Homo sapiens: one gene and its partners. The protein of the gene in region 1 binds, or shares a complex with, the protein of each later gene. Each region holds a gene or a part of one and is shown on either strand. Other genes may lie near its edges.

Region 1 (6,153 bases):
TTCTAACTTCTAGTCAGAGCCTCAGCATTATACACCCAGCCTACAGGTGTGTGGATTCCTGAGACAGATGGCAATGGCATCACCTGTGGTGCCAACTCATACATTTTAATGAGATTTCTCCCTGAAGGGTGAACCAGTAGACCAGACTAAACGCACACTCATGCAAGAATGTAAAATTGTATTTCACTGAGGCCCCTTTATAAGCAGAGCCATCTTTGCGAATTTCTTGGGGTGTTAATGTAAACATATCTTTAGAATATCTCATCGGGTTTCAGTCAGAGCCATGCTTTGGGTTTTTCCTAGCAGCAGTGATGATATCAACTTACAAGGTTTGGCTTTCAGGATTTCAGAAGCTGGCATTCAAGACAACAGGCAGTTTGTCAGAGCTGAATGAGAATCAGCCTGGACAAATCAAGTGCTTTAACAAGGGCATCTTCCTCTGGGAATAATCAGTCCTTAATACAGTTTGCACTTGACATAATAGTTTTGGTAAATGTCTTTTTCTGGCTGCACCCCCTTTTAAGTAAGCCTTTAATTTTAAATGGTCTGGAAAGATCTTCGATGCTTTCTGTAAGGTTTAGTCACCAAGAAGCCAGAACTTTTGGTGAAAACAGAATTTATAAAATGAAACTGAACCTTCTCCTTTCTTACAAAATAAAGATCCTGTCAGACTCCAGTCTCAGACCACCTTTGCCCATTTGTAATTCAGACTTGCAGAGTGAGGAGAGAACTGCTTCAGCCTTACTGTCTTGTAGAGAGATTTGGTGAAAATCATGTTACTTTAGACCCAGTAGTTTTCAGGACCGCAACAGGATGCGGGGCACCTGGCTTCCCGGGTAAGGTCACATAGTCTCTTAAAATTCTGTCACTAATTTTTTTAAACGACTTTTTTTAAAAAGCCACCTCCTCATGCCTGTCCAAAATGAACCACGCAACTGGTTACCTTTCTCTGCCTACCTTTTGGGCTGGGGAAGAGGGGCACCTTTCTCATCACTCTCAGGGAAGTCCTGAGGAACTGTGCAAGCCAGGAAGCATGAGTCGCTGAATTGGTGATGGAGGGGTGTCCACTTTTTTCTAGTTCCTCAGCTGCTTCTGGAGCAGTGTTCACAACGGGAATGTTTTTACTGTCCTTGGTAGGCTACAGGTTCACAGCTTCAAATCAAGGCCTCCAAGGATTTTATTCTCTTACATCACAGTTTTGACAAGTATGCTTTTAAAAAACAACATTTGCAAAACTGGTCTTTAAGCGACGTGAGTCAGAGGTAACAAAGGCATATATATACCGAACAAAGGTGCTCCGGTGCAGTGGAGAGAACAGTATTAGTGTCGCAAGCACAGGAGTGCAGACAGCCCCGCCTTCATCGTGATGCCTGCAGCACACCACGATTATCATGAGAGGTCAAGATTTTGATTTACTAATTTATAATCTTATTTCCAAGCAAAACAAGTCAATTTCATGTTACAACTTTTTTCTTGTTTCTTTTTATCTTGTTTGGCCTGAGGGTTGGGGGATTTGGGGGAGTTGTCAGCTGCACAATCTTTGAAGTGTAAGTTAATTTTTATGTGATATTTCAGTATATATTTTATTGATTAAATTTATTGGAAAACTTATTTTTTTAATTCATTTATTCTCAGACTGTGCCTTCTGGGATGGGGAGGGAGTTTAACAGGCAATATCACTTCTACTCAGTCGATAGGTTGATTAATTCTAATAATATCCTCCTTCCCCACCCTCTTGAGACCTCCTTAAACAAACAAATGTGTTTATACTGTGCCAGTTTATTTGGTTGTATTTTCATCTTTGTTAACCTGTGTTTAGGTCTGAAAACAATACATCCAAATTACAGTCTCTCTTGACCACTGCTAATGCCCATCACCTACAATGGCTGGCCCTTAGGAGTTGCTCAAAAATATTTGTTGAAGGAACTGCAGAATGAAAAGTTTTCTTAGAATGGGTAACAGTATCTCCAACATACATTTTATTTAGTTTAAAATTCCTTAATACAAGAAGGTGTTACTCCTTAACCACTGCTGCAGCCTCACCGGACCCTCCTGATGTGGATGAAGCAGGCGGGGTGGCTGCTGGTCGGCTGTGGAGGCACCTCCAGGCACAGGGCCTAGAGGGTGAGAACACTGGTGACATTAATGCCATAGCTGTGGCTTGGGACAGGGATTGAGAGGCAGCTCTCAGGGCACATGGGCATCAGCTTTCACAGGATCCTGTTCCCAGTCAGGCTGCACTGTTTGTTGTTGTCCCTTGGGCAAGGGGATCCCAAACATCTCACAATGACAGCTTCTTCTCCAGGATCTCCTTTATCATGACTGGATCTGCTCGGCTTTGAGTCGCTTTCCGGACCAACCCAATCAGTTTATTTATAGCTCTGGGGTTTCTGTTCTTCACATCCATTACCTAGAAGGACAGAAATTACTTACTTAAGAGGAGAAAATGAAGGGATTCATGCCCCCAAATCCCAAACTAAGGCTTAAGTTTACTGAAAATTAAATTCCGCTTATTTCCACTAGTATTAGACATAAAATGTAGAACAGAAAAAGGGGAGGGGCCTCACTTCTGAGTAGGTTTCTAGGCTCCTGTCAAAGGAGATTTTTGCTACTCTGCTTTCTGATTAAAATGAGCAAGAAGTGATTGCCGAAAGCCAGAGAAGCTGGCACGTGGGAGCCAGGGCCCTCCCCTCTGCGACGCCACAATGACCGAGGACACTGAGTCTGGGGAGGGATAATCTCTCTGAGATGATGAATCACTGCGTCTAATCAGTGAGGACACCTCTCTGATTCTCAGTGATGTTCAGCTGAAATGTGTGGCTTTCCTTCTCCCCCTGCTCCCCACCAAGAAGATTCCTTTATCAGAAAGCAGATCTACACACTGGCCGAGTCTTCCAGAGCGCTGGGTCGGGGGGAGTGTGCTGTGTGGGCAGGGGGAGTGAGGAAGCCAGGAGGTGCTGAATTCCTATCAGATAGCCACTGACTCTTAGGGCCACCACGTGACCTCCTGCTCTGCAGCGTCTCCAAGGGCAATGACATGAGGATCTGCACTCAAGTGCCACAGAACAAGCCTGAAACTACTGGCACGTCTTTATCAGTCACCACAGATGAGGCAGGAAGACGAGGCTGTGGAGGCCCAGTGCAGGCTCATTTTCCTTATCGAGAGCTCTTTACAGAGCTGTGAGTGTCCCCGGCAAGCTGATGGGTGGGTGGGTATTATTCTGAAAAAGATGCCGACAATTTTTTTCCCCACTGAAAAAATATCTCTAGACAATATGATTAGACTTGGGGAGGGAGGGATGCCACTCGTTTTAGCTTTTATGTCTTGTGCTGTGCTAAGAACACAAAATGACCTGGTTTTCAGTCATGCTCCTGTCAGGGATTTTCTCCACAATTTATGAATACTTTTCCCTTCTGCCTTTCTTCCCACCTCTTAGAAGCATGAAGCTGAAGTTCCTGTACTCTCCCTGCTCTGCCGGCACACCTGCTGGTTCTTTACTGGGAGGTCCTTAGGAAGTAGCGCTAACCACAACAGATTCGAAATGCCAACCCTGGGAGAGGGCGACACACCTGGGAGGTCACAGCTTGGATTTCGTGAGCTTGCTGACACCCTTTTAAACTACACCTCCATGGAGAGTAAACTCCAGGGGTGGCATCCTTCTTATAGGAAAAGAAGTTGTGTTTTTCCAATATCCACCTATTTCATCTCTTCTGACCTTAACTAAAAAGATGACAGTGAGGGAATTATTGATGAAACTGGGTCAGCCATTCTTAGGAAGAGCCTCTGGGCTGCCACAGGGAGCGATGGCGAGGCTCTTGGGCATGTCCTGGGGCTGGCTCTGGCCCTCTCCCCTGCCCGAGATAGTCACCACTTGAGGATGGGCCTCCATCACAGAGTGGCAGAGCTGCTCCAGTGCCCCCTGGTCCTGCATCAGTTCAAGCTGCTTTTCTGAAACAATCTGCCCTGGAGTCTTGCCTTCCCTCTTCCACAGTTCCTCAAACACCTATGGACCAGAGAAGGGAGAGGAAAGAGAAATGAGAAGTCAGCTCTTCTGCCAGCTCCATTTGCAGTGCTGTGCTGTGTGGAGCTGGGGTGGGAATGAGCAGATTCAATTAAGTCCCCACTGCCTGGGCCTGGCCCAAAGGGAAAGGGCACCTGGCTGCCCTGCCAGAGCGTTGGCTCTCCTGAGGCATCCCTGAGTGCAGGGCTGGGGAACAAGGCCAGCTAGGTGGAGTGAATGCACCTGGGGTCTCCTCCTGAGGCTGAAGTCTCCCTCAGCATAAGGTGTGAGAGGACTCGGGCCAGCCAGATGCCCTCGTGCCCAGAGGGATGGTGAGTCCTGCCCGGCTGACTCCACATGGCGGGGGGGGGCCGCGGGAGGCGTGGAGGTGCCCATCACTCATGGGCGCCTGCTGACGGGAGTCGGCGGGCCACTGATGGATCTGTCTCATGGCCGCCGAATTAATTGAGGTGACATTTTGGTGAAGGATGGGGCCACACAGCCTGCAGGAGGTAACCACGGTACTAAATAAAGTCCAGAAACAGCATGCTGGGAAAGATGACTTTAGGGAGGCAGGAAAGTAGCCCCGTAATGAAGATACAAAATGGCAAACAACTGAAAACATAAATTAGAATCCACAGGGGCCCCCTGGCCTACCACATTCATCTCCTACAGGTAGAGCCGGACCCAAATCAGACTAGGATAATGAACGCTAATGTTTGGGGCATTTTTTTTTTACTTAAAAAATGACAACAACAAATCCCCAAATTCATCAAACCTGAGAAAAAGGAAACCATTTTCAAGGAAGGCTATTTCCTAGGGTAGCTGTTTTCCTCATTTCTCTTGTCTTCTAGCGAAAGCCAGAATTGGGAGCCGGGAGGAGGGCTTCCTCTGTTGGTCTCCCACCGGTGCCACCTCCGTCCAGTCCACAGTCATGACTGAACACCCAACTTTCCCTGTTACCTTGGTGGCCGAGAACGGGCCAACCAGGAGCCATTCCTCCTGGAAAAACAGAGCTCTTCCATAATTAGCACGAACAGCAAAGCAAATAAAAGGGAGATGCTCTGAGTCTCAGCAGGGCTCAAAGTCTTCCCCAGTCTGATTCAAAAACAAACCACAAATACTTATCACTGCTGGGACAGGCACTGCGCCTTCAGCCTGGTGCCTCAGAACGTGCGCTGTGACTGTGGCCAAGGAGGTGTGCTTGGCAGGTCCTGGGTAAGCTCCCTACAGGGCACCCCTCTGCCGCTGCCCGACTGCTCAGGAAAAGCCTGGCCCTACTCTTAGAAAAATACAGAATGCACGTGCCTCCAACTCAATTCAGCAGATATGTACGTGGCCTGACAATGAGGAAACCATTGGGAGAAAGGGGGCACAGAAGCGGGAAGAAACTTCCTCACTCTCAACATGCTTATCAGTGGAGTGCTGCCAGCAGAAGCACTGGGGACCTGGATGGCGTTCCATGGAGCTGCCCTGTAAGTCGGAGGAGTCCATCTGCCCCCTTTCTCTGACACGTTTATTTTTTGAACTAGGACTTAAATTTTAAAAATCATTTTCTAATAATAAAAGTTAATACACATTCACTGCAGAAAATATAAGGAAATACAGGAGAGATCAAAAGAGATCACCGGAATTCCCATTTTCTCAAGAAAACCAATGTTAATATTTTGGTGTTTTTTCTTCCCATCTTTTTCTTTCTGTTTTGTAACATACTTGGGATCATAACGTATATTCAGTTTGTGTCCTGCTTTCTTTCATTTAGCACAGAAGTACTTTCTTAATAAAAAGATCTAGCTAGTATCCATCAGATGTATTTATCATAATTTATCCCCTCCTCGTAGATATCTAGACTTTGACCAGTGTTGATTTTGTTCATCTGCACAGACTCCCAAAAAAGCTCCTAGCTGAAAACCTGGCTCAAAACAGAAACCACCTGTAAGGACTTGCTCGTGAAAAATCTACGCAGCAGTTCCCTCCAGGAAAACCAGGCGGACGAGCAGCCTGTGCCTGGAAGTAGGCGGGGCCCCTCCTGGGTCTGCGTCTGCAGACACAGACCAGGGAGCGATTTCTCAGCGCCTGTGGTAGCTGCTGCGGTGGGAAGCACACGGCAGACCCTGAGCAGGCTGGCCAGTGAGCCAGCCTCTTTCTGACG
Region 2 (9,149 bases), on another chromosome or scaffold:
TATCTGCCTATCTTGTGTCCCTTTGTAATTTTTTAACCCCAGAACTCTATTCCCTCCTTCAGGATGTCATACATTATCTTTTTTTCTCTCCATGCTGCTCTGAAATCCTGCTTAGAAAACTATTAGGAAATGGCTGCAGTCCTGAGCTGTGAGCGGTAAACACAGCCTTTGAGAGCAGGAGCACATTTCCCTTTCATGACATCAGGTAGGGTTGTATGACTCCCGACTAGTTTTAGCATCTGAGTCTTACCTTCCCCCCCACTGTATTGAAGAATGTTGGTGATCTTTTAAGAGGTACTCTGTATAGTTTGTCATTCATACCTACAAGAAAACAAACTTTAGATTTTTTGTTGTTGTGTTGTTACCTTCAGCTACTCTTTGGTTATTTCATGTCTGGTTTCAAAATTCCCATGTCCTGTGAAACCCTGTCAAGCAATAAATAATTGGTACTGTTAAATTTCATAATGGAAAAAATTGGAACTCAAAGTATTAGGAGTTTGGCATTGATTTTAAAGGACAAAGAAAGAGGCTATGAATTCTCAAAGATACTAAACCTGTAATGGGATGGACTTCTTGCTCTGTTGAAAAGGCCTGGTCTCTGGAAGATGAACTTAAAACCAGCTTCTCAAGGTGGTTCATTTACCACACATACTTCAGTGCTCTTTTCTGATTTCATGTCCCTTATCAAGGTTTATGATTTGGGGACCCTCAGGATTTAAGTGATCATGGAGAAAGGACCATAGGTATTGCTGGCTCTTAACAGGGCAGTTAACATAGCTGAAGGATGTGGGCTTTCTTATGTTCTCCATGCCTAGGACTTCCTCCGTCAGGCAGCTGGCAGGACCTGAAGGATCACATGCGAGAAGCTGGGGATGTCTGTTATGCTGATGTGCAGAAGGATGGAGTGGGGATGGTCGAGTATCTCAGAAAAGAAGACATGGAATATGCCCTGCGTAAACTGGATGACACCAAATTCCGCTCTCATGAGGTGGGTCCTTGCCTTCTGTTGAGGAGCTTGTACTCAAATCACTCCACTTGAACCTGACCTAGCAGAGGTAGCAAGAGGCCATGCCATTTGGTAACCTCACAGTACCATAAGAGATCTATCTTAGGTGGACAAAGCCATGGAATTTGCTATGCCTAAGTCCTTCAGGGTCATAGCTGAAAGAAGTATGCATTCATGGTACGTTTGTTTTTTAATATGCTTTATTCTGCATATTAGTATCACATTACACAGTTTGGTCATGGTATTTGTAACCTGGAGAGAATACTAGTGCAGTCGGTCTTCATACCACCCCATTCACAACCAGCTTAAATGGCAGTATCCCTCTGTGAACTCAACTACCCCTCCTGTGGGTCCAGGCTGAGCTCTACAGGTCAGCCTCTTCATCTCAGCCCTTCTAGGTCCTGCTGTCAGGGCTGAGCTGTCACTTCACTTTTTTCCCAGAGTAGTGCAGCATCCTCTCTGAAACCTGAGCTATCATGACATTTTCTTTTTTAATTTTATAATTTTTATATTTCTCTAATTTTTGATTTTAGAGACAGTCTCATTATATTGCCGAGGCTGACCTTGAACTCCTGGGCCCAAGCAGTCCTCCCACCTCAGCCTCTCCAGTAGTTGGGACTGCAGGCATGCACCACTGTGCCAGGCTAAACCGTAACATTTTCTTGTGGTTGATTATGTCACCCTTCAGACTCAGTAGTTCTTGATGTCTTTCCTTGTAGGAAAGCAGCTGCTGTTTTGGATCTCAGTTTGATTGAGGTGGTGACTATCCCTTTGGTACCATTGAGACCAGAAACCAGACCAGTTGGACATTGTTTTTTTCTGGTTATCCTGTCCTGCCTTACTATGAGATTTACGGATGTTTGGGGACACAGGTCTCTGGGCTCATTTCTTTTTCTGAGGATTCATATAATTGCCTAGTTTTTGGCTTAGAGGTTGGTCCTTCCCTGGTTTAATGATGCTTTTGTTCAGACTGTCCTCTAGGACTTGAATTTGAAGCAGAAACAGAACAGCACCTGATCCTCAGTTATACTGCAAAGCAGGGCCTCAGAAAGGGTAACTCCAATTACTGACTTTCACCTAAGGTGAAAAAGCATCCGGCTTCTTTCCCCTTGGCATCTTTGGATCTTCTGAGAATGGTGGCTGAAGGCAGAGGGCCTGGGGACAAGCCAGCCTGGACATGACTCCTCTGCTGCTTATTAATTCCTTACCTGAACTACTCTTGGGACCTCGATTCCTTCATGGGCAAAATGGTCACATAATAGCACCATCACAAGACTTGCCAGGAATCTAGAGCAAGAGGATAACGTCTAAAGCATCTAGCTCAGGTCCTCACATCTGGAAGGTATTAAATACAGGCTAGCTCCTTCCATAGATGCCCATCCAAAGATGCATACATGAGGTGGCAGGGGATTAAACTATATGACCCCTGAGATCCTTTCCAGTTCTTAGCTTTGAGGGGGGTCAATGGCAGTAATTCAGATATATTGTTTATCATAGTTAATTGAGTATCAACATGTCAAATTGGCATTTATTGTGTTACCTTGGGCAAATGATATAACTTAAGTCTTAATTTTCTTCATTCTTGAAATGGGATAGTAAGAGTACCTACCTCATAATGTTATGAAGGTTTAATGAGATAGCCTCATGCCAGGCACAGAGTACACAGTAAGTGCTCAATACTTAACTATTATTGTTAGATGTTGGTTTGCTTATTCTTCTGGCTCTGATTTTTTTCCCCTTTACTCTTTTTGTTTTTGTTTGCATTTCAGGGTGAAACTTCCTACATCCGAGTTTATCCTGAGAGAAGCACCAGCTATGGCTACTCACGGTCTCGGTCTGGGTCAAGGGGCCGTGACTCTCCATACCAAAGCAGGGGTTCCCCACACTACTTCTCTCCTTTCAGGCCCTACTGAGACAGGTGATGGGAATTTTTTCTTTATTTTTTAGGTTAACTGAGCTGCTTTGTGCTCAGAATCTACATTCCAGATTGAGGATTTAGTGTCTTAGGAAATTTTTTTAATTTTTTTTTTTTAAAGAAGAAAAAAAACTACATAATTTCTACCAGGGCCATATTAGCAGTGAAACATTTTAAACTGCAGAAATTGTGGTTTTGGTTCAGAAACAAGTTGTATATTTTTCACCCCTGATTATGGGAAAAAAATCAGTTCTGTCTTTGTGGGTTGCTCTACTATGGAGATCAACAGTTACTGTGACTGAGTCGGCCCATTCTGTTTAGAAATATATTTTAAATGTTTAGTAATTGACATGTGTGGTTGTCCTTGATTAAGTTCACAGATTTCACCAAATAGGCACACTAATTTAAAAAATCACTGAGTTGTAGTCATAACTTGTACCCAGTTAGGAGCAGGGGTAGATAACTTTATTTATATGGGGATAGACAGTTGCTCTGATGTTGGTTTGAGAACGTAAACTCCAAGAGCGGGTTCTGGGTTCTCTTTTAATTCAAGGCCAAGCTTGTAAATTAGGCTGCCTTAAAGAAAAAAGCATTGCAGATAAAGGAAGGGAATGGGAAAAATAAACACACGGTGGCTTTTGCCTGTGATCCTAGCCCTTTGGGAGGCCAAGGCATGCCAGAGGATCCCTTGAGGCCAGGAGTTCACGACCAGATAGGCAACATAGCAAAACCCCCACCTCTACTTAAAAAAAAATTAACTGGACGTGGTGATGCACATATGTAGTCCCAGTTACTTAGGAGGCTGAGGTGGGAGGATCACTTGAGCCCAGGAGTTGGAGGCTGCAGTGATCTGTCACCACTGCACTCCAGCCTGGGTGACAGAGGGAGACCCCTGTCTCAGAAAACTAAAAAAATGAGCAGCAGCATAAATATTATTGGGAAATTCTTAGCCAAAACCAACTTTGGCAGTTTGGTTAGAGGAAAAACTCTCTGATTCTATCACTTTTTTTTTTTTTTTGAGACTTGCTCTGTCGCCCAGGCTGGAGTGCAGTGGTGCGATCTCGGCTTACTGCAAGCTCCGTCTCCCGGGTTCACGCCATTCTCCTGCCTCAGCCTCCCGAGTAGCTGGGACTACAGGCACCTGTCATCACACCCAGCTAATTTTTTGTATTTTTAGTAGAGATGAGGTTTCACCGCATTAGCCAGGATGGTCTTGATCTCCTGACCTTGTGATCCGCCCGTCTCAGCCTCCCAAAGTGCTGGGATTACAGGAGTGAGCCACTGCGCCCAGCCCACTTTTATCCCTAAATAAGTTTCATTTATCCTTGGTATCTGAGTTTTATCCTGGACTCATCTCAATTTAATAATCATTTTGGGGGCGGAGAGGGCTCCTTTGTCCCAGGCCCAGGGCTAATTTTAGGATAAGTTCTCTTTTCAGAAAGAGAAACACTAGGTATGACTAGTATCCCTTTGGCATATAATCACTTTGTGGGATGGCAGATAGTTCTAGGTTAGGAGTTCCCAAGCTCTAGTCTACTTTCAACACTCTTCAGACCTTAGTAGGAAGTTAGCCCTCTTCTGGGAAGAAAGTGGGAGCCCAGGAACAAATTCAGGTATGTTCGGTAAAGATAGGGCTGCTCAAATCAATGCAAATGGCAACTAAAAATGACAGCCAAGGTTGTCACATAGTGATCAAGATGCTCCGTCTACCAGTTACGTAGATAGAAAAGTTCACTTTCATGCAGTTGGTATGGTCCTTTGGGGGGAGTTAAAGGCAGATAAATAATGTCTTCCATACTGAACAGGCCTGTTAAGTGAATTCCTTGGAAGCTGACTTTTGCTTTTCTTTCACCTCAGTTAGCATCAGGAACTCACTGCCTTGTTGGGGCCAGATCTTTCCCAATTCTGTCTTCAGAAGAATCTGTTATTAAGAAATGCTTGAGCATCCATTTTTTCAGGGGACTGAAAAAAGCAGGAACATTAGTATTCACAGTAAAAAAATACTGTCATTATGCTTCCACATGTTCACAGAGTACCCCCTTTCCAGAATGAGCTACTCAGCTGTGTGGGAATGGCTCTTGTTCATCCAGCTTTGGCAAAGAGATATTACCTGTTTGAAAATAACAAAAGAGAATTTTTGTTTGTTTGTTTGTTTTTGTTTTGAGACAGAGTCTCGCTGTTGCCCAGGCTGGAGTGCAGTGGCGCAATCTCAGCTCACTGCAGGCTCCGCCCCCTGGGGTTCACGCCATTCTCCTGCCTCGGCCTCCAGAGTAGCTGGGACTACAGGCGCCCGCCACCTCTCCCGGCTAATTTTTTGTATTTTTAATAGAGACGGGGTTTCACCGTGTTAGCCAGGATGGTCTCGATCTCCTGACCTCGTGATCCGCCCTCCTCGGCCTCCCAAAGTGCTAGGATTACAGGCATGAGCCACCGCGCCCGGCCACAACAGAGAATGTTATAGCTGAGCCTGCCGCCCAGCTGGCTCTACTGAGCTAACTGATCACTACTTTCTCATGGAAAATATGGAAGTAATGTAGCTACTGTCCTGTTTTCCTAACTGGGAGTATCTGAAAGAATCAGTTCTAAGTGTAGCCAAATTCACCTTTTTCAGTAAGGAGTATACAGGTTGATTAGCCACTAATATGCAGATAGGACTAGAAGGAAACACTGACCATGAACTCAGGTGGTCCCAAAAAGCAAAGTCTGAAGTAAGGTTCTGTGTGGGAGATAGCATGTCTGATCAAAAGATATTTCTGCTGGAGCCACAACTATCAGGCTCTGAGATGGAGAGTCTCCTTTCTCTCCACAGTTAACAGGTGGTTTAGTGGATTGGAGGCATGATTAAGAGTTTAGCTCACGGCCGGGTGCGGTGGCTCACACCTGTAATCCCAGCACTCTGGGAGGCCGAAGCGGACGATCACGAGGTCAGGAGAGAGAGACCATCCTGGCTAACACGGTGAAACCCCGTCTCTACTAAAAATACAAAAAATTAGCCAGGCGTTGTGGTGGGCGCCTGTAGTCCTAGCTACTTGGGAGGCTAAGGCAGGAGAATGGCATGAACGTGGAAGGTGGAGCTTGCAGTGAGCCGAGATCGCGCCACTGCACTCCAGCTTGGGCAACAGAGCAAGACTCCGTCTCAAAACAAACAAAAAGTTTAGCTCACAAAATTTCTAGCTTTCTTTCCCATCCTTGCATCAACCAGAGCCTGCCTTTAACTGGCACCTTAAGCTGACCAGGGCCAATGTCTTCTGTGGAGTCTGCTCAGAATGATTCTCCCTCAGGATATCCTGAACTGGAAGTTGGCACTTAGCAGGCTACCTGATTGCTTTTGGCTAGTCCCACTCCCAGATGCCCAGAGGGGTAGTACAACAGCTCCAAGTATTCACCTACCTGCAGAGGAGATAAAAACAGTCAACCTATCCAAGGTTCTGGATTTTACTGTCAGCCCAGAGTAATTTTAAAGCTTCTATTTAAAATATTTACAGTAGGTAGATGATGCAAATCTCTATACCAGCTGTTGTAAACTGATGGCTCACAGACTGCACCTGGCTTGCAGATGTGTTTTATTTGGCTTGGATGGTATTTTGTTTTTTAAATTTTGAATTGGTTGCTAGCACTTAAAATTTAAGAAATATCGGCGGGGTGCAGTGGCTCACCCCTGTAATCCCAGCACTTTGGGAGGCTGAGGCGGGTAGATCACCAGTTCAAGACTAGCCTGGCCAAGATGGTGAAATCCTGCCTCTACTAAAAATACAAAAATATTAGCCAGGCATGGTGGCAGGCACCTGTAATCCCAGCTACTCGGCAGGCTGAGGCAGAGAATTGCTTGAACCCGGGAGGCAGAGGTTGCAGTGAGTCAAGATTGCACTCCAGCCTGGGTGACCGAGCGAGACTCCATCTCAAAAAAAAAAAAAAAAATTTAAGAAATATCACACAAAATGTCAGGTATCCAGGTTCTCTGGAGAAATGGGTTTACATTCCTGCCTGGCAACACTGATAGGGTAGCAGCCATGCTCCTCCTGCTTTGAATGGGCACAGACTGAGGGCAGACCCTAATGGCGTTTGAATCATGTCATAGGCAAAGATGTGACAGAAACATCTGGGCTAAGGCCACACATGATAACTAAGTTGTCACAATAAGATTCGTTTTGGGAGGCCGAGGTGGGTGGATCACCTGAGGTCGGGAGATCGAGACCATCCTGGCTAACACAGTGAAACCCTGTCTCTACTAAAAATACAAAAAATTAGCCAGGCGTGCTGGTGCATGCCTGTAATCCCAGCTACTGGGGAGCCTGAGCAGGAGAATCGCTTGAACCCGGGAGGTGGAGGTTGCGGTGAGCCGAGATTGCACCATTGCACTCCAGCCTGGGCAACAAGAGCGAAACTCCGTCTCAAAAAAAAAAAAAAAAAAAAAGGATTCTTTTAGGAAAGGACTGGTTTTTTTGTGGTACCCAGCCCAAAGCTAGACCTAACAAATATTTATTCATGGTATGAATACTAGAAAGTTGGAGTCGATTACAGGATCTGGCAGGGTCTTAACTGTGGCTTTGAGAAACACTGAATGCCAGCTGCCCCTTTAGGGAGATCTTGAGCTCCAGATTTCCACCTACTTTAAACCTCCCGCATGCCCCCAATCCTGTTTTGCTTGTTCCTGTTACTAACTGCCCCCTAGAGGTGAGTATGACCCTGGACCCTACTGCCACCTTAATGCCACCATCTGTATGCACTTCATCCTTTTCAAAGTGCCTTCACATAGCATCTTTGGTCCTCATGCTTCCTGCTTCATTCCTAAGGTTACTGTGAGACTATCTGTTAAACCATTCTGGGCAGCACGTACCTGGGGGGGCCACAAAGTACTCCTCCACGACGCGATGGGAGTTTTGTAGTAATTCATCAGCACAGTTGCCTTCTACCACATTGTCGGATCTCAGGTATAGACATCTACAAAACCCAGAAGCTCAAGGTTACCCTCTCAGAGAAGGGGGCTTTTAGGGGATGATGGAGAGGGGCAAGAAGGAGAGAACAAGGAAGCAGTATATTCTTGAGTTAATGGGCACTGTTCAAAGATAGAGAAGCTGGGATCAACAGTAGACCAAATAACAGCCTACAGTTTATAGATTGACCGAACAACCCTGAGAAGTAAGTGCTAATTACTTCTCTGGATTGATTTAACAAATAGTTTTTGATGATTATATGGGCAACTGTCTTTTGGTGGGGACAGGTAAAAGCAATTACAAAAACAATATTTTAAATCTAACAGAGGTTAGTACAGCCTGCCAAAGGATAGAAAGGGTACCTAGTCCAGCCTGCGTGAGTAGCACATCCTCAGAATAGCTGATGTCACTGTTCAAGGATGGGCAAGAAATAGCTGGATTGGGGGATGAAGGTATGAGAAATGGACTTCCTGGCACGTATAGCAGCATGAATCCCAAAGCAATAGAGCCGAGAGCTCAGAGATTCAGAGAAGGACAGGGAGTTTAGCAGGCTGGGGTGTGGTCTGCCGGGGTGGAAGATGAAGCTGGAAAGCTAAGCAGAGATGGGGAAGCAAACTTGCCACAAGAGTAACTTAAGGATGTTGGCTGCTAAGTAACAACTGGGATCTCAGCCCAATCTGATACACCTAAAATGAATGCTTTTTCCACCACAGCCACTTTGGTGGATGTGCCTGCCCTTGAGCAAGATGTGCCACCAACAGCTCAAGAATCTCCCAGTGTTCTGTGGGACCTAGTGACTTTACTAAAGCCTTCAGATGGCAAACCGGTAAAAAACACACAAGAGCTTGAACATTTGCATGAGGCTTCACTATTGTTTCAAGGTGTAAAAGTGTGTAAGCCTGCTTCCAGATACTTAGATTAAAAAAATAAGCAGTCTGTTAAATCACTGATATGGTATTCGGTAGTAGCCACGCTCCTCCTGCTTTGAGTGGGCACAGACTGAGGGCAGACCCTAATGGCGTTTGAGTCATGTCAGAGAGGGACAAAGATGTGACAGGTACATCTGGGCTAAGGCTGCACATAAGAACTAAGTTGTCAGCCGGGCGCGGTGGCTCACGCCTGTAATCCCAGCACTTTGGGAGGCCGAGGTGGGCGGATCACGAGGTCAGGAGATCGAGACCATCCTGGCTAACACGGTGAAACCCCATCTCTACTAAAAATACAAAAAAATTAGCCGGGCGTGGTGGTGGGCGCCTGTAGACCCAGCTACTTGGGAGGCTGAGGCAGGAGAATG
Region 3 (9,002 bases), on another chromosome or scaffold:
GGATGTGATCTCGCCTCACTGCAGCCTCAACCTCCGAGGCTCAAGTGATCCTCCCACCTCAGCCTCCTGAGCAGCTGGGACTAAAGGCATGCACCACCATGCCCAGCTAATTTTTGTATTTTTTGTAAAGACAGGGTTCGCCACATTGCCTAGGCTGGTCTTGAACTCCTGAGCTCAGACAATCAGCCTGCCTCAGCTTCCGAAAGTGTTGGGTTTAAAGGCGTGAGCCATTGCACCCGGTCAGTCTTTGTGCTTTATTACTTGCTTTTCTAAAGATCATGGTCCCTTAAGAGTCATCTGAAGGAGCTTTTAAAATTTTAACTCAGATCATGTCCACAGATTCAAAACTTTCCAGAAGATTCCCATTACACTTGGAATAAAATCCATACTCCCTACTGTGGCCTCAAAGGTTCTCCACAATTTGGCTCCTACCTGTCTCCCTAACCTCTTCTCTCATTGCTCTCCTCATTCACTTCTCTCCAGGCATATTGGCCCTTTTGCTATTCCTTGAACATGTTAAGCTTGCTCTTGTTTTAGGGTCTTTGTACTTACTGTTCCATCTGCCTGGAACACTATTCTCTCAGATCTGCCCAGTGTTCCCCCTTCATGCCCTTCTGGTCTCTATTAAGTATTATTCACTCAATCAGAGAAATCTTCCCTGACCACTCTAGCTAAAATGTCCAGCTCCCCCAACTAGTTCTCATACTATGATCTACTTAATTTTTCTCCATAGTACTCATACTACCTGAAATTATATCATTTACTTTTTTTTTTTTTTAAAGTGTTTAATGGCTGCGTTTCCACACAAAAAAGTTAGGTTTCAGGAAGCAGGAGCTTCTGTCCGTCTTTAATGCTACCCCCCAGTACTTGGAACACAGAGGTACTCACTAAATGTTAGTTGAATGAATAACAGTTGTTTAAAATTTAGAATCGATTTCCCTATAGAACAATGATTAGTTTTTCTAAAGTTGAAGCTCCAAGAAGCCAAATGAATATATCATTCTTTAAACTTTAGGATTAATAATATTAGCCTGGTGCCTCACTCCTAGAAACACTGGGATCATGCCACAAAAGACAAAGGTAAAAGTGAGATTTCCTCCCCCTTTCTGAATGTACTTGGGTAAAATTTACAAATGGGAATTTTACCTATTTGGCATTTTACCTCCTTTTTGTGCCTATTCCCAGGACTCCTGTTACCATAAGCTTCCACTCACATCCCCCAAATTGCTGCCATCATTTCCAGCCCTTCTCCCTAATTCCCCGCAAATTTCCCCCTCTTCAACTGATTATCTCAATTAAGGTATTATGAAGAAATTTGAACTGTTATAATTTACAACAATGGGTGGAAAAATTGTTCAACCTTCCCAGGCATCTGTACATATTTAAAAGAGAATTAAATTAAAAGATAATTTGTATGAATTAATTAATCTCTAATTGGTAGAATTTAGGGCAACAGTACAGTGATGTGGAAAAAATACAAAGTAGACAGAAGGTAGTTTTAGAGCTGGGGAAATAACCACCAAATATTTTGCATGCTAGGCATTAATCAGTATTTGTTAAAGGAGTGATAAAGTAAAAGCAATCATGCCAAGGCAACCTCTGGATTTTCCCCTGGGTCAGCTCTCCTAAATAGTTCTTTTCTCCCCCCATGCGGCAAAAGTTGTTTTTCACAATGGCTAACTCAATGACACCAGAGAGAAGTAGCACTAAAAAAGGTAGCACTTAAGGAGCTATGACAGTTGTCAAAATCAAAATAGAGTGACTTGTGTTAAAATCCTGACAAATGGAGCCAAGGAAGGTCAAGAAGAGAGGGTTCTCACGCATGAATGCCTGATAAGAAGAACTATCACACTCCAGCTGACAAGGGATTGATAACCGAAGTATATAAGGAGTTCAAACAACTCAACAGGAAAAAATCCAATAATCAAATTAAAAATGGGCAAAAGATTGGAATAGACATTTCTCAAAAGAAAGACATATAAATGGCAAACTGGTATATGAAAATGTGCTCAACATCACTGATCATCAGAGAATTGCAAATCAAAACTACAATGAGATATCATCTCACTCCAGTTAAAATAGCTTCTATCCAAAAGACAGGCAATAATGAATGCTGGTGAGGATGGAGAAAAGTTGGATGAAATGTAAATTACTACAGCCACTATGGAGAATAGTATGGAGGTGCCTTAAAAACCTAAAAATAGAACTACTGGTTGGGCACAGTGGCTCACACCTGTAATCCTAGCACTTTGGGAGGCTGAGGGAGGAGGATTGCTTGAAGCCAAGAATTCAAGACCAACCTGGCCAACATAGTGAGACCCCATCTCTAAAAAAAAAATAATTAAAAATAAATAAATAAAAATAGAACTACCATACGATCCAGCAATCCCACTGCTACGTATATATGCACCTAAAAGAAAGAAAATCAACATAGCAAAGACATATCTGCTCTCTCATGTTTATTGCAGCACTATTCACAATAGCCAAGATTTGAAAGCAAGCTAAGTATCTACCAACAGATGAATGGATAGAGAAAATGTCCTACATGTACACAATGGAGTACTATTCAGCCATAAAAAGAACGAGAGCTTGTCAATTGCAACAACATGGATGGAACTGGAGGGCATTATGTTAAGTGAAATAAGCCAGGCACAGAAAGACAAACTTCCCATGTTCTCACCTATTTGTGGGAGCTAAAAATGAAAACAATTGACCTCGTGGAGGTAGAGTAGAATGATGGTTACTAGAGGCCTGAAAGGGTAGTAGTAGGGGTGGGAAGTGGGGATGGGTAATGGGTACAAAATATAGTTAGACAGAATGAATAAGATACAGTATTTGATAGCACAGCAGGTGATTACAGTCAACAATAGTTTATTGTACGTTTAAAAATAACTAAAAGAGTATAACTGGAACGTTTGTAACACAAAGAAATGATAAATGCTTGAGGTGATGGATACACCATTTACTCTGATGTGATTATTATGCATTGTATGCCTGTATCAAAATATCTCATGTGCCCCATAAATACATACACCTACTATGTACCCATTAAAATTTTTTTTTAAAAACAATCATAAGACTGCAAAAAACACAACCTTGCACAAAGGCCATTGCAACCTTCCACACACACGAGTACTTCTGTAAGAATGTCTGTCCAGCAACTGGCCATCCAACCTTGGACTGATGCCACCTTTGTGACTGATCCTTGTGGCCAAGGATAACTGATTCAAAATAATTTAAGTAATCCTTCTCATTCTGTCTTTAAAAACATCCCTTGCCTCAACCTTCTTGAATAGGCACATAGTTTACAATATTACACATATTCCCATTGCATTGCTACTCCAAAATAAATATTTTCTTTAGAGTCTCTTTCTGTTACTTAGATTGACAGTGGAAAAGGCAGAAAAAGGAAATAACATATTTTTATAGGTTGTATTTAATTTTAAAACAAGTTTTGGGTGTTGTCTGTTTATTTATTTTTATTTTATTTATTTATTTTTTGAGACGGAGTCTTGCTCTGCCGCCCAGGCTGGAGTGCAGTGGCGTGATCTTGGCTCACTGCAAGCTCCGCCTCCCGGGTTCACGCCATTCTCCTGCCTCAGCCTCCCGAGTAGCTGGGACTACAGGCGCCCGCCACTACGCCCGGCTAATTTTTTGTATATTTAGTAGAAATGGGGTTTCACCGTGTTAGCCAGGATGGTCTCGATCTCCTGACCTCGTGATCCACCCGCCTCGGCCTCCCAAAGTGCTGGGATTACAGGCGTGAGCCACCGCGCCGGGCATATTTATTTTTTAAAGAACAAATTTGATTCGACGCAATTTAAAATGATAACATAATAATGTATTTTGGGGGAAGAACTATTATTTAAAGCCTGTGGATTTCAATTTCTCATTATATATTACAGCTATCTATAATTATAATTCCACGCTGCCAGCTGGGAAACAAACAAAACGACAACTTCTAGGGTGGAATAAAAAGGAAGATGGAAGGCAGTTTAGGTCATCAGCGCCTACTTCTTACCAGAAATCACCTGGAGCCTCCATTAAACCATACTCCCGAACTTACCACACAGCTCTAATTAAGTCTAGAGTGGGGCATAGTTTTAGTTTCAACAGGTGCTTTATGTGACTCTGATAGCAATGGGCCTGCAGACAGTTCTAAGGTTGAGTGACGTGAACCAGGAAGCAAAAAGACCCGAATTAAAGCTATAACAGCAGAAATAACGTAAGAGGGCAGATTCCAGCCATATCTGCAAGATAGAATGAAGAGGGCTTAGTGATTTATTGGATATGAAAGATGAGGAAGAATCTAAAGGCAAATGAGATAATAGTTGTGCCATTAAAAAGAGTCTATTAAGAATTCAGAAATACCAGAGCTTTTTTAAGACGGGGGTTGAGAGGTAAGTCCTGTTACAATGATTACTTCAACACCGATTAAAGTGAATTTGAGGGTGCTTATGTGACATTTAGAAGAACTGCCCAGAAAGCATTCACAAATACAGTCTAGAATTCAAACACGACGTCCAGGACATGGAGACACGGGTTAGGAAATCACTGGTATCTTAGTGGTAGGTAAATCCTAGAGAACGAATTCTTTGAAAAAAGCCAAAAATTACTCATTTGAATTTTGCAAACTACAGTTTCGCCGGGCTTCTTAGCGACAACTGCAGCTAAGTGTCGGGGACAGAAGAGAGACTGAAGTGGCCCCGCAAGCCCCCTTTGGCAAAGCCCACTCCGAGACCATCCGGATCCCGACCTACACCAGAGCAAATGTCTAATGGTGAGAAGCCGCTTCACCACCCTACAGATCCGCGGTGCAGAGATTTCCCTGCTAAGGTCCTAACTCCTGAATGGGTACGGCGAGTACACCCGAAGAATCGAAAGGTACTTATCCCCCACTCAGTTCTAGAGGAAGCAGCGAGGTGGGCCAAGATGCGTGGTAAGGCCCAGGGACTCTTTGTCAACGAAGTCCGTTAAACTTTCCGCCCTCCCGGGGGCCTCAGCGGGCCAATTCCACTCACTTCTCGGAGGCTCCGGCCCAGCATGGTCCTCGTGCCCAGCCTGCCACCACAGGAGCCAGGCAAGGGGGAAAAAGAGGTCACCGGTCGCTAGTGATGTTACATGGGCGCAGCCATCTTTAATTGTCACTGAGCCCTTCAACACCGAGTACTTGGATTGGTTGAATTGCAGCCCGAGGAAATGATCTTTGTAGGCGATTGGTTGGCGCCGCAAAGCCATCCCGGCGGCTAAGGAGAGCGGGCAGGCAAGGAGATTCCGGGCCAGGGTCGCGGCGGCAGTCGGCAAGCGTTCGATTCTCTGGCGTTGGATCGCGAGCGGTGTCTGCTTGTCCCGCCGAGGGCTCCCAGGACAGGGCAGGGATCTAGGGGGTTTGCGCACCTGCTTTTTAATGCCCCGCCCCCCCTTTTTTTTTTAAAGTGGAGGGGGTGAAAGTGAGGGAGGAGAATGGACAGAATACTGACTGGAACGTTAATTCGAGCATTTCATATGCGAAGAGCGGAATAACAGTTCCGTATTCTTCTTTCAGTTTCTCCATTAGATTAGCTTCATTTTCGAATGCTCCGTTTTGCATGCTTAATTTTGAAACTAGCCCGTGGTTTGGCAGAATTTGACTGAATTCAGGGGTGAGAGTTTGATCCAGTCCAAGTGTATTTGAATTTGAGCACGCAGTTCAACCAGTGTTTACAATGGAATTTCTGAAGACTTGTGTACTTAGAAGAAATGCATGCACTGCGGTTTGCTTCTGGAGAAGCAAAGTTGTCCAAAAGCCTTCAGTTAGAAGGATTAGTACTACCTCTCCTAGGAGCACTGTCATGCCTGCTTGGGTGATAGATAAATATGGGAAGAATGAAGTGCTTCGATTCACTCAGAACATGATGATGCCTATCATACACTATCCAAATGAAGTCATTGTCAAAGTTCACGCTGCCAGTGTAAATCCTATAGACGTTAATATGAGAAGTAAGTTTTCAAAAGACATTGTTACCTTTTTTAAAAAAATCACTTTCATAAGGTATGCCGTTTTAAAAAATTGACTACGCTTCTTTGGTTTACATAAATGAATCATTTAGGTTTTTAACAATACCTCTGCAAATATTTCCAAAATTTTTGAAATTGCAATGGCCAGGGAATCCTTCTGGCCATTTGTATTGACAAAATATAAGCTTGATTGTTTTCATGCGTCCTTAAATATGTAAGTTCAGACTTGAGAACTGTGTCTGTAGCTAACTTTTTTTTTTTTGAGACTGAGTCTCACTCTGTCACCCAGGCTAGAGTGCGGTGGCCTGATCTCAGCTCACTGCAACCTCCGCATCCTGGGTTCAAGCAATTTCTCCTGCCTCAGCCTCCCGAGTAGCTGGGATTACAGGCGCATGCCACCACACCGGGCTAATTTTTTGTATTTTTAGTAGAGATGGGGTTTCACTATGTTGGTCAGGCTGGTCTCGAACTCCTGACCTCAGGCGATCCTCTGCCTCCGCCCCCTAAGTGCTGGGATTACAGACGAGCCATTGCGCCCTGCCTATGTTTGTAGCTAAATTTCTGTCCAGGGAACTTTGTGGTATTCTGAGATCCGTCACAGGCTTCGGAAGTATAGTTGTTTCCTAGTCAGTTTAGAATTTATGGGGTTTTTTGTTTGTTTTTGAGACAGAGTCTCACTCTATCGGCAGGCTGGAGTGCAAGGGCGCTTTCCTGGCTCACTGCAACCTCCGCCTTCCGGGTTCAAGCGATTCTCCTGCTTCAGCCTCCCAAGTAGCTGGGACTACAGACATGCGCCGCCACACCCAGCTAATTTTTGTATTTTTATAGAAACGGGAGTTTCACTGTGTTGGTGGGAGGCTGAGGCAGGAGAATCGCTTGAATCCGGAAGGCGGAGGTTGCAGTGAGCCAAGAACGCGCCCTTGCACTCCAGCCTGCCGATAGAGTGAGACTCCATCTCAAAAAAAAAAAAAAAAAAAAAAAAAAAAGCATTGAAATGACTTTACTGTGATTGTCTCATGAAGTCTACGTTTGTATTCTTTGTTTTGAAGTAGTAATTGCTACTACCAGTTGGGCATGCCGTTTTCCTTTATTCTTTTTATATTAGGCTTGAAGAGAATTCAGTTTTTTATAAGATATGTCTTTTAGTGGTAAGTTTTACTCAATGATCAGCATGTTTTTTCATCTCCTTTGATTGTAAGTTCTTTCAAGATTGATCCCATGCTTTGTCAACCTGTTTCAGTGCTTCACATACGCAGTTGTCATTCAGTCACTATTTCTATGCCTTTTTATATTTTTGTTCTGACTTAAGATAACAAACTTAAATTAGCAGTATTTTATCTATGAGTAATTTTTACATTTTGTCTTCGTTTAGGTCTGTTAGCTTTTTATTTCTTTAAATGCACATGCGTAATTCATGCCGTGTACATTTTCATTTAAACAGAATGGCTGTATCTAGACTTTTCTTGGCTGCTGTTTAATAATATAACACTGTAAAACATTTTACTTTTATATAGTATTCTTGAAACATCTTAGTTTTTTATGACTTGAATGGGTAATATTATTCGCAAGTTATCCTCTTTTTTTTTTTCTCCTACCTTTTGAGGATATTTATTGTCATTGCAGAAGATATCTGAAACAGTAGCTTGGGGAAATAAAATAATGAGTAGAAGACTGTAAACTGTAGGAAGCAGTTATTTCCCTTGGCAAGAAAGCAAGAGACATGTCTATTTTATTTGAAAGATGAAGGCTGGCTGTTTTTCTGGAGACGGCCACTACTGTTGGACGTAAAATAATAAATCATAGAAATGGCTAAAGAAATGAAGAATTTTTACATGGGGAAAAAATGCAGCCAACAGCATCATACCAACAAAGTTTGGTGTCTTTAGATGGGATTAAAGTCTTTAAACTGATGACAGATTTAGGATTTTTCAAATTGGCCCAACTCTCTGAACAAGTCAAGGTGTCAACCCCTGTCAATAGGATGGAACACTTAAGGGCCCCATTCAGTCATCCGTGTCACCAAACAGGTTCTCAATTACTAACTGCCAGCTGACTACATTCTGGGTTCAGGGGCTTGTTAGATAGTAACAGTGAGCCAAGGCTACTCAGTTGATGTATTAGCATTATCAGGGGACCAAGAAAACTAAAAACAACCTTGGGCTGCAGGCTCTGTATCTCAAAGAGGACTGAAACCTTTCTGCAGCTCTTAAACAGCAGCTAAAGTTTGACACGACTAAATGTCCACTTCTGTTGTTCAAACCACATAGAAGTTTCAGTGAATAATTGTTTAATTATCTTTAGCAGTGGAAAAGGAATGTAAGGCAGGAAAAGTGAAGCACATGACTTTTGTGAATATTACAAGTGAAGTTGTTTTTTTTTTCCCTGACAGAGTATAATCCTGACTCCCCAGATGGCAAATGTTGTAATGTTGGTATAATGGCCATCAGCTTAGATTTTCTGGGACTTTCCCACCTTTCAAACACTTTATCCCATGTGTCTTGATTTTTTATTAGTAACACAACTCATGCAAGCTACCCACCTGTCAGCATCTCTCTCGGTATCTTCTACCTTCCCTCCTGCTGTATGGATTAGCTGTCACTGCTTTCACATAAGGCCAGCCCTCGGCTTGTGTTTCTGATCCCATCCCCCTCACCTACTCTGGGATATCATTCCGGCAGGTGTCTCCTGCATCATCAGTCTTTTCTTTTCTACTGGATCATCTCCATTAGTATACAGACTTGCTGTTATTTCTCCTTTCTTAAGAAGAAGGAAAAGGCTGGGCACAGTGGCTCACACCTGTAATTCCAGCACTTTGGGAGGCCGAGGCAGGTGGATCACCTGAGATCAGGAGTTCGAGACCATCCTGATCAACATGGAGAAACCCCGTCTCTACTAAAAATTAGCCAGGCGTGGTGGCGCATGCCTGTAATCCCAGCTACTCAGGAGGCTGAGACAGCAGAATCGCTTGAACCCGGGAGGCGGAAGTTGCAGTGAGCCGAGATCAC

The links.
Region 2: GATB (region 1) and GATC share a complex: the UniProt entries of both Homo sapiens proteins name them as parts of the heterotrimeric GatCAB amidotransferase (AdT) complex.
Region 3: GATB (region 1) and QRSL1 share a complex: the UniProt entries of both Homo sapiens proteins name them as parts of the heterotrimeric GatCAB amidotransferase (AdT) complex.

The regions. Positions count from the first base shown.
Region 1 is NC_000004.12:151,668,893-151,675,045, forward strand, and holds the end of GATB (glutamyl-tRNA(Gln) amidotransferase subunit B, mitochondrial isoform 1 precursor), read right to left. Parts: exon of another isoform or gene 4,005-6,153; coding exon 3,870-4,004; exon of another isoform or gene 2,697-3,869; intron 2,411-2,696; coding exon 2,282-2,410; 3' UTR 1,612-2,281; downstream 1-1,611. UniProt on the Homo sapiens protein: Allows the formation of correctly charged Gln-tRNA(Gln) through the transamidation of misacylated Glu-tRNA(Gln) in the mitochondria. The reaction takes place in the presence of glutamine and ATP through an activated gamma-phospho-Glu-tRNA(Gln).
Region 2 is NC_000012.12:120,455,789-120,464,937, reverse strand, and holds the end of GATC (glutamyl-tRNA(Gln) amidotransferase subunit C, mitochondrial), read right to left. Parts: intron 7,863-9,149; coding exon 7,759-7,862; intron 5,032-7,758; coding exon 4,979-5,031; 3' UTR 2,920-4,978; coding exon of another isoform or gene 2,776-2,919; 3' UTR 1,189-2,775; downstream 1-1,188. Other genes in the region: SRSF9 (serine/arginine-rich splicing factor 9), read left to right, coding at 816-988, 2,776-2,919. UniProt on the Homo sapiens protein: Allows the formation of correctly charged Gln-tRNA(Gln) through the transamidation of misacylated Glu-tRNA(Gln) in the mitochondria. The reaction takes place in the presence of glutamine and ATP through an activated gamma-phospho-Glu-tRNA(Gln).
Region 3 is NC_000006.12:106,625,725-106,634,726, reverse strand, and holds the start of QRSL1 (glutamyl-tRNA(Gln) amidotransferase subunit A, mitochondrial), read right to left. Parts: upstream 5,150-9,002; 5' UTR 5,046-5,149; coding exon 5,022-5,045; intron 4,885-5,021; coding exon of another isoform or gene 4,851-4,884; exon of another isoform or gene 4,641-4,850; intron 4,401-4,640; exon of another isoform or gene 4,236-4,400; intron 1-4,235. Other genes in the region: RTN4IP1 (NAD(P)H oxidoreductase RTN4IP1, mitochondrial isoform 1 precursor), read left to right, coding at 5,706-5,979. UniProt on the Homo sapiens protein: Allows the formation of correctly charged Gln-tRNA(Gln) through the transamidation of misacylated Glu-tRNA(Gln) in the mitochondria. The reaction takes place in the presence of glutamine and ATP through an activated gamma-phospho-Glu-tRNA(Gln).